Linked DNA regions of Homo sapiens: all the other regions are reported to be linked to region 1. Evidence: microRNA targets listed by miRTarBase, many of them from high-throughput screens and not tested one by one. Region 1 holds a microRNA gene; each other region holds the end of a gene's coding sequence.

What was found. The annotated mature microRNA hsa-miR-383-3p reads ACAGCACUGCCUGGUCAGA and lies in region 1 at 1,648-1,666, shown strand. An mRNA with a match to its seed (bases 2 to 7 or 8) in the 3' UTR can be bound and repressed. Matches are read on the target gene's strand: a 7mer-m8 pairs with bases 2 to 8, a 7mer-A1 pairs with bases 2 to 7 and ends in A, and an 8mer does both.
Region 2: the mRNA of TMEM164 is a reported target of hsa-miR-383-3p. Seed matches in the 3' UTR shown: 7mer-m8 at 621-627 and 8mer at 1,543-1,550.
Region 3: miRTarBase lists TJP1 as a target of hsa-miR-383-3p. Seed matches in the 3' UTR shown: 7mer-m8 at 1,587-1,593.

The regions. Positions count from the first base shown.
Region 1 is chr8:14,852,109-14,855,108 of GRCh38, reverse strand. MIR383 (microRNA 383) reads left to right here and starts at 1,599; the gene lies at 1,599-1,671. The region is part of intron 1 of SGCZ (sarcoglycan zeta); the gene reads left to right.
Region 2 is chrX:110,173,032-110,176,031 of GRCh38, forward strand. TMEM164 (transmembrane protein 164) reads left to right here. Exons shown (of 7, transcript NM_032227.4): 7 at 214-3,000. The coding sequence ends at 420. It overlaps LOC124905230, which reads left to right and starts at 2,742. Exons shown (of 2, transcript XM_047442708.1): 1 at 2,742-2,786; 2 at 2,885-3,000. The coding sequence starts at 2,742.
Region 3 is chr15:29,699,006-29,702,005 of GRCh38, reverse strand. It overlaps TJP1 (tight junction protein 1), which reads left to right. Exons shown (of 28, transcript NM_001330239.4): 28 at 317-1,854. The coding sequence ends at 411. Among named protein-coding and RNA genes, the nearest start is that of LCIIAR, 26 kb to the right of the region's middle.

The DNA of each region.
Region 1 (3,000 bases):
TGTACTCCAGTTGGGTGACAGAGCAAGACTCCGTCTCTAAATAAATAAATAAATAAATAAAATAATGGAGATGCCTAGGAAGTTGCATCAAAGTTAGATCTTGAGGGAGGTGGGAGAGCATACCAGATAAAGTCGGGAGCGGGATTTCCCAAGAGAGGCCATAGCATGGACCTCTGCATGATTGTTCAGGCCCCTGTGGACATGCTGACATATCTCTGTGAATAGTGGCAGTGCAGCCTTTGATGTCTAGGGTAGCAGAGATTAAAGAGGGCCACTCTCTGCCGGGTTTATATGCCCTGGGAGACTGATCCCAATTGACCTACTCTCTCCTTTCCTCTCTATGAAAATAAAATGATAATAGCAAACTAATTCCTGCTGGTATTCCTGAAATAATCCAACAAAAGTGAAAAAAGAAATCAGAAGGACCAGTAAATCCTTCTTCTCTCTACTGTTTAACACCAAACTATATTACTGTATGTATTCAAAATATCTTATATTTGCAATAATCATATCTACGATGACTATTGAAAAATAATGAAAACCACTGGCTTCCTATTATGAAAACAATATTACACAATGTGAAATTTATTAATTTTATTAATCTAAGAAGTGCCTTAATATTTAGTTGATAACTTATTGACAGTATTTATTGTAAAAATAAATGTGTATATTTTTATCTTTTCTTTCTGCTTTAGATATGTTGTGGAACAATGTTGAGTCTAAATAAACTACAAATTATATATTTTTGATATGTCTATGTATTATCTTATTCAATGAATACAAATTAACTTTTTGTTTTGTGAATTGCGAATGAAATAGTAAAGTGAGTCATTTTGCATATAATGTTGTTAACACCAACTCTGTGTCAAAAGCCCAACATTTACAAGTCAAAAGTTACTGCATTTAAGATGATTACTAAATAGTGAAGATGAGGTAACACAAAAATCAAACTAATAACAATAATGTATTTCAATTTACATTTTGTGACTCTGTGCAAGGAGATATTGTAGCTTTAGACAGAGTATATAAAATTAGAATATATATACAAAAGGATATATATATATATATATATATATATATATATATAATATAATCACATAGAAACTGATGTCGTTACAAAATGAATGACTTAGGAGTAGGCAAATTTCGACCTTTGATATAGGCCTTGAAAGATCCTTGAAAGGTGTGTATTTTGTATTGGCAAGGAGGAAGGAAGGCTTAGGATAAGCTGTAGTCATGTGAAAGCATTGGATATTGGGACTAAATTGGTCTTCTGGTTCATCTGAAGAAAGAACAGAGAAAGGAAAATTCCAACAGTAGTTAGAAAAGCCTTGTTTATTTTTCTCCCTTCCTCTCTCCTTTCCCAAGCGTTTCACTAGGAAAGAAAATAGCTCTTCTATGGTACCCATGTAATACTAATTTCTCAGCGTTGTCATTCTAGGAACTGCCAATGATTGATGACAATCTATTTAGATTCAGTTCTTTAAAGGACAAAGCAAACCACTTCAGTGACTGAATTTTTTTTTAACCTGCAATGTGTATTGTTTGATTATGTTTGCATAATTTATCAAGAGACTTCAGAATCTCCCCGTCACCTGCTCCTCAGATCAGAAGGTGATTGTGGCTTTGGGTGGATATTAATCAGCCACAGCACTGCCTGGTCAGAAAGAGCAAGTGTCCTAGCCTTTACCTCATGAGACCTTGGGTATCCATCCAGCGTAGGTCCCAAGGGAACTGCATTTGGTGGACTGGAGTGGCCAGCATGCTTCAGGTGAGATGAAAAGTGCCATGTTTAACCTGTGTTTGGAAGCTTGTCTTTCTCATAAAATACCTAGTTGTTTCCTCACATGAGCATTTTGATCATTACCTCCTCTTCCCCACTCTTTAACATTTTTATACCATAAAGAGAAAATAACTTGGGATTCCATGCAGACATTTGAAATTCATGGGCAAAATCTTCAAACTGCAAATAGTACAAGTTTTATATGCATGCTTTAATTTGACTTTCTTCAAATATGAATGCTGCTATAATGCACACATGCAAAGGCCGCTATTGGAATATACTTTCTATGTATCCTCAGAAGCAGAGCTGGCCTCTGGCTGGTAAGTGTGGCTGCCTCATCAGCAGTATATATCTGATCATCTCAACAGTGTTTTCCATTCCTAGTAAAGGAAAAGCCCCATAGAAATAGTAACATATGTGTTTAGGAGCTAACGCTTCAGGAGAGTTTAGACGAGGAGATTCTGGGAACAATACCACAGGAATCCAGGAAAGACTTTGATGCAGAGAAAGGCTATTACTCCATGAAACACTACAGATGGGAGGTGAGCCAAAGAAAATTTTTTGTACTTTGCAATGTTTCCTTAATATGGTCCTGCTCCAACATAATGTAATTATACAAGCTGTGGTTGCCAAAAACTAAATATGAACAAAAATGGAAAAGACAAGATGTTTGTAGGGGAGACTATAGGCATCTGGCGTGCAGGGAAAAAAGTCAATAAATTGTTCAACTGAGGTGAAAATTAATTCTAGAATATTTTCAGGCAATTGTTGGTAGGGTGTTTGTTACTTTGGGCTGGTGTGTACTCGATGGCAACTTTTGTTGAATTAATTTTTGATTTTGATTAGACTTTTACTCAATCACATATAATAAGTACAGCTTCCTTTCTTGAGTTACAGTTTACTATTTCCTTAATATTTAGAAGCATAAGAATATTCTGTAGCCATATATCAACTGAGATATCTTTGAATATTTTTTGTCCTATAAATTATTTACAAAGTATTATGACTGTAGAATACATTTTACCTTGATGAACTATTTCTACCTTTCAGATGGTTCTTGGACTTGAACATAAGGCAATATAGTACATGCTCCAAATATTTACAGAAATTATTTTGTATCACTGAAAAAATATTGCGCTTGAGATTTTGTGATTTTATTTCTGGAGCTGACTTGGCAGGAGAAGTCTTAAAGCATTGCCTCTTTAAAAAAATAATAA
Region 2 (3,000 bases), not on the chromosome of region 1:
TCCACTAGACGGCCCTCCGCCATCACCTCCAGAGGCCTCTAGCTTGACTCACTCAGAAAACCGAGGGGAGAGAAGAAATCCCTTTATAAACAGGTGGGGATTGGTCAATCCCTCCTTGTCTAGTCCCCCATTAGGTAGAGATGGCTGAACTGGCAGAAGCCAGAGAAAGCCTAAGGATGGTGAACGCTCACTCTACCTCCCTTGTCCCTGCAGGTCACCGAAGTGAATTTGAACAACATGCTGTGTCCGGCCATCTCAGACCCATTCTACGGCCCCTGGTATCGCATCTGGGCCTCGGGACACCAGACTCTCATGACCATGACCCACGGGAAGCTGGTCATCCTGTTCTCATACATGGCTGGGCCCTTGTGTAAATATCTGCTGGATTTGCTCCGGCTTCCAGCCAAGAAAATAGACTGAAGGTGCTTATTTTTTTTTTTTTTCCTCCCTGAGGAAGCAAGTCGTGACTTGACTTGGAGAACACCCAGTTCTTGATAAAATCATGGGAGAGGGCAGTAGGATGTTTGGTGTATTTCTTTTTCCTCCTTTCTGTCCCTTTCTTCTACCACTCTTCCTTTCCCAGCTCTTCCCCCTACGATGTCTCCTTGAGCCTGGGGTGTAGTGCTGGGCGCTGGATTTTCCTCCTTCCCTTTGGCTCTCTCTCTGCTCCTAGTGGCCTTACATGGGGAGATTGCAGTGAGCGGCTCTTTCACTCTGCTTGTCGGTGCTTTAACAACAGCTGGTTGAGGAGAAAGGGAACAACAAGTAGTAGTTCTTTTGGCATCGAAGCAATGAGATTGGGTTGTGTTTCATTTCTCCACTGCCAGGGACCTCCAGGCTTATGCTGGCGTCCCATTTAGTCTCCAGCACAGCCCTTACCACGGGGGACTGAGGCCTTGTTTCTATACCAGCGGCAAGCCCAGAGCCGAGGGATTTCACAGCTCGTGGTCAAGACAGAACCAGCCAGATTCTGGTCACTGGTGTCCCATGACTCAAAGTAAACAGCCAACCAGCCACTCCCTCCAGGATGCTGCCTGGGGTGGGAGGTGAGAGCACCACCCAGCCCAAGGGCTAGATTCCATTGAGAGGGTTGGAGATCTATTGCAATGACAAATCCAAAGTGAAGAGGGTCAAGATATATACAGTACTAGGCCAGACCCTGTGTAAGTTCTGCCTGTGAGAGTTGAGAACTGATGCATATCCCAATCAGAAGTGAGCACAGAAAACTGTGATTTGAATCATACACTCTGTTTTAGGAAAATGTTGATAATAGATACCATTTTAATCTTGAGTGCCCCTTAAATGTGTTCCCTCTCCCTTTCCCTCTCCCCCCACCCCTCCCCCTCCCCCCTCCCTCCCTCTTTCCCTCTCTCAGGCAGCTTCAGGGAAGAATGAGCTGGAATTGGCTGGTTGGTTGGTTTTTGAGTTTGGAGAATCCTCGCATCAGGGCCCATTTCTGGAAGATTCTGTAGATCTGTTTCTTGGTTTTACAGGGCCAGTGTTGTTTCCCTAGGGCCAGATTTCTTCAGTGTATCCACACTCAGTGCTGAATTGTTTAATGTGGGGGACATCACGTCCTCCTCATCCTGTCTACCCCCAAATCCCATGTCTAGGTTGAAAGGGGGCTGCCAAAGAATTAAGTCCTCATGGGTGGAGGTTCAGGTGCTCCACAAGGAGGAGCTTTTGTTGAAGGACTTCAGCTCAGTTATGCACGGACCTCAAGCAGGCAGGAAGTGGCTGGGCATTGCTGACTCCACATTGACTCCCACTAGGAACAGATTTGCTTAAGAACAGAAAAGCTCATTTGGTGATTTTGTCTGATGAGCCTCCCTTCCCCTGTCCCACTCTAGGCAACACAGTTGACCTAGACCAGTTCCAGTATTTCCAGTTTGACCGTGTTTGACCTACACTGAGCTTCGGTGCCTCAGTGGTCATAATTTTAGCAAGTGGACCTATAGGAAGCAACCCTGGGAGGGACCGTCCTTCTGCAGAGGCCTGCGGGCATTGAGGCTATCAATCCCCAGGGCTTGGGGAGCAGGAGGGGAGGGCACCAAGTGCTCTTACTCTCCTGAGCTCCTTTTGATGCGTAAGCTTTGTTTTTGGCCCTCTTTGAAGGCAGGGCCAAACTTTTCTTAGTGCCTCTCACCTTAGGGTGGCCCTCCAGGGAAGGTGCTCCTTGAATGGCTGGATTGGCCCTGCCCACCGTCAAACTGCTACATGTAGGAATAGCTGATGAGGAAATACACAAGGCCTCAGTGCCCCTTGGCCTCTTTACAAAAGGAGAAGTTGGAAGGGGATTGTGGGAGGAGCCCCTGGGGGCCTGGTCTGTCCTCCACCAGAACTTGGAGTTGCTGCCAGCAGAGGATCTGTGCCTCAGCTGAAGACTAGCTCCGGAATGTCATAGGGGTGTGACTGTGTAGGCCTTCTCCTCCTCCTCGTTTCTGTGGCATGGCACAGGTTGCCTGGTTGCTCGAGCCTTCCCCATGTTGACATCCTCCACAAGCTTGCCTTTGCTCTGTCTACAGCTTAGTACCCCATTCTGGAGGGCACTTTCTGGTGCTTGGAAGGAGAGAAGAAAGCAAAAGCCACATGCCTGGCATGGCCAAGCCAGAGACAGATCCACCTGTCAGAGGAAGGAAGAAGTAAAGGGGGCATGCAGGGCTTTTGGGGGCCAGATTGGCTCAGAAACATGTAGGTCAAAAGAATAGAGGGGGCCCAGTCTATAGGCTTCACAAGGAGCCATGGCCTGTATTTGGGGCATTGGGGAGCATAAGGCATCTGAACTGGTCCAGATCTCACTCTTATCTTGGGCCAAGCCAACGTGGAGAGAAGCAACCCAACCAGACTCTTGGCAGCCTGCCTTACAGGGTAGCCCACCTTATAGGGTAGCCCTCATATCTGCCCTGTGCCGGCCCTCTACTGCCCCAGCTTTGGTACAGGAGTGAGGGAGAAGCTGGAGCTTGCACACCCAGTGGCCAGTGGGGCTGTCTTCCCAGCTCC
Region 3 (3,000 bases), not on the chromosome of region 1:
AAGGCCAATGCACTTGATAATGTAATAAAGGAGAAGTCTGAAAATTAAAAACAAAAAACAAAAAACTGTTCTTAATGGTGTGAGTTAGAAAGAACGTTTTAAAAAAAATTTTTTTAGAAGTGTGAAACACCTTTGGAATTGTTAGATGCCAGCAGATCTGCTTTGAAATACAGCAATGTGTTTTGATACAAATTCAATATGCTGAAGAAACAGAAGAAAATTATGTCTAAATATACGTATTTGCCCTATAATTGCAAAGCATTACGGATAGCAGTTTACTGAACTGTAAATGACATCAACTTCTTTTCTCTCATAGGTGATCCTAAAACCTGGCAAAACAAGTGTCTTCCCGGAGATCCAAATTATCTCGTTGGAGCAAACTGTGTTTCTGTCCTTATTGACCACTTTTAACTCTTGAAATATAGGAACTTAAATAATGTGAAACTGGATTAAACTTAATCTAAATGGAACCACTCTATCAAGTATTATACCTTTTTTAGAGTTGATACTACAGTTTGTTAGTATGAGGCATTTGTTTGAACTGATAAAGATGAGTGAGCATGCCCCTGAACCATGGTCGGAAAACATGCTACACACTGCATGTTTGTGATTGACGGGACTGTTGGTATTGGCTAGAGGTTCAAAGATATTTTGCTTTGTGATTTTTGTAATTTTTTTATCGTCACTGCTTAACTTCACATATTGATTTCCGTTAAAATACCAGCCAGTAAATGGGGGTGCATTTGAGGTCTGTTCTTTCCAAAGTACACTGTTTCAAACTTTACTATGGCCCTGGCCTAGCATACGTACACATTTTATTTTATTATGCATGAAGTAATATGCACACATTTTTTAAATGCACCTGGAATATATAACCAGTGTTGTGGATTTAACAGAAATGTACAGCAAGGAGATTTACAACTGGGGGAGGGTGAAGTGAAGACAATGACTTACTGTACATGAAAACACATTTTTCTTAGGGAAGGATACAAAAGCATGTGAGACTGGTTCCATGGCCTCTTCAGATCTCTAACTTCACCATATTACCACAGACATACTAACCAGCAGAAATGCCTTACCCTCATGTTCTTAATTCTTAGCTCATTCTCCTTGTGTTACTAAGTTTTTATGGCTTTTGTGCATTATCTAGATACTGTATCATGACAAAGACTGAGTACGTTGTGCATTTGGTGGTTTCAGAAATGTGTTATCACCCAGAAGAAAATAGTGGTGTGATTTGGGGATATTTTTTTCTTTTCTTTTCTTTTCTTTTTTTTTTTTTTTGACAAGGGGCAGTGGTGGTTTTCTGTTCTTTCTGGCTATGCATTTGAAAATTTTGATGTTTTAAGGATGCTTGTACATAATGCGTGCATACCACTTTTGTTCTTGGTTTGTAAATTAACTTTTATAAACTTTACCTTTTTTATACATAAACAAGACCACGTTTCTAAAGGCTACCTTTGTATTCTCTCCTGTACCTCTTGAGCCTTGAACTTTGACCTCTGCAGCAATAAAGCAGCGTTTCTATGACACATGCAAGGTCATTTTTTTTAAGAAAAAGGATGCACAGAGTTGTTACATTTTTAAGTGCTGCATTTAAAAGATACAGTTACTCAGAATTCTCTAGTTTGATTAAATTCTTGCAAAGTATCCCTACTGTAATTTGTGATACAATGCTGTGCCCTAAAGTGTATTTTTTTACTAATAGACAATTTATTATGGCACATCAGCACGATTTCTGTTTAGATAATACACCACTACATTCTGTTAATCATTAGGTGTGACTGAATTTCTTTTGCCGTTATTAAAAATCTCAAATTTCTAAATCTCCAAAATAAAACTTTTTAAAATAAAGTGCTGGCTTGGTCTGTTTGCCCACTGTTTTCTAGTTTCATGCAGCTTTATAATCCTGTTTTAAAATCCTGCACACAAATCCCTATCACCCAGCGTCACCTACCACCTCGTCGTCTGGTGTTGCATGCAGAATTTCTCCCCTTGGCCAGCATGTACAGATGGGTGGGCAGTGCTCATCTGAAGGGCTCAGACTGAAGTGGGGCAGAAGGACCTGGAGACAGAGTGGGAGAAGGCAGCAGGCCGACTTCCCCCTGTGGGTAAACACACACCCCTGCGTGGAGAAACACCCCTGCATGGGGACACACGTGCGTTTGTGTGTGTGCGTGTAACCATTTGTATATGGTTTTATTCCCCAGATAAATAGCACGGGCATTGTTTAATGTCACCCACATTTGGGGGAAGAAAATGGGTTTAGTGAGCATAAATATTCCATTGTGGACATCCTACTTACTTAACTGCCACCCCTGTTGACATTTGGATTATTGCTATAGTGTTTCAGTAAACACCTTTGTGGACTGAATCCATCTATGTGGATTTTATTTTTTTCATCTTTGTTAAGGTATAATTTACATAGAGTAAGTTACTGTTTTTAAAATGTATAGTTCAAATTTTGACAAACACATACTGTTTATTTACCACGGTTAATACATACAACAGTTTCTTTATCTTCTCTAATCATTTGTACCCCTTTATACTCAACCCTTCTTCCAGCCCCTGGCAGGATGATCTCTTCTGTTTCTATAGTTGCCTTTTTGACAGTGTCATATAAATGGAATCATACAATATGTTGCCTTTGAGTCTGGCTTATTTCACTTAGCATGATGCATTTGAGATTCATGTATGATGTTGCAGGTTCTTTTTTATTGCCAGGTGGTATTCCATTGTGTGGCTGTACCAGAGCTTGTTTATCCATTCCCCAGTTAAGGAACTTCTGGGTTGTTTCCAGGTTTGGGAGATTATTAGTAAACTGCTATAAACATTTGCGTACAGGTTTTTGTGTAAACGTTACTTCATTTCGCTTGACTTCAGTTTGATGAAGTCTAGTTTAATCAGTTTGTTCTTTCATAGATTATGCTTTTGTCATATCTTCACTAAGATGTTCTATCCTAAGAGAAATCTTCACTTAGCCCAAAGTGTAAAGACTTC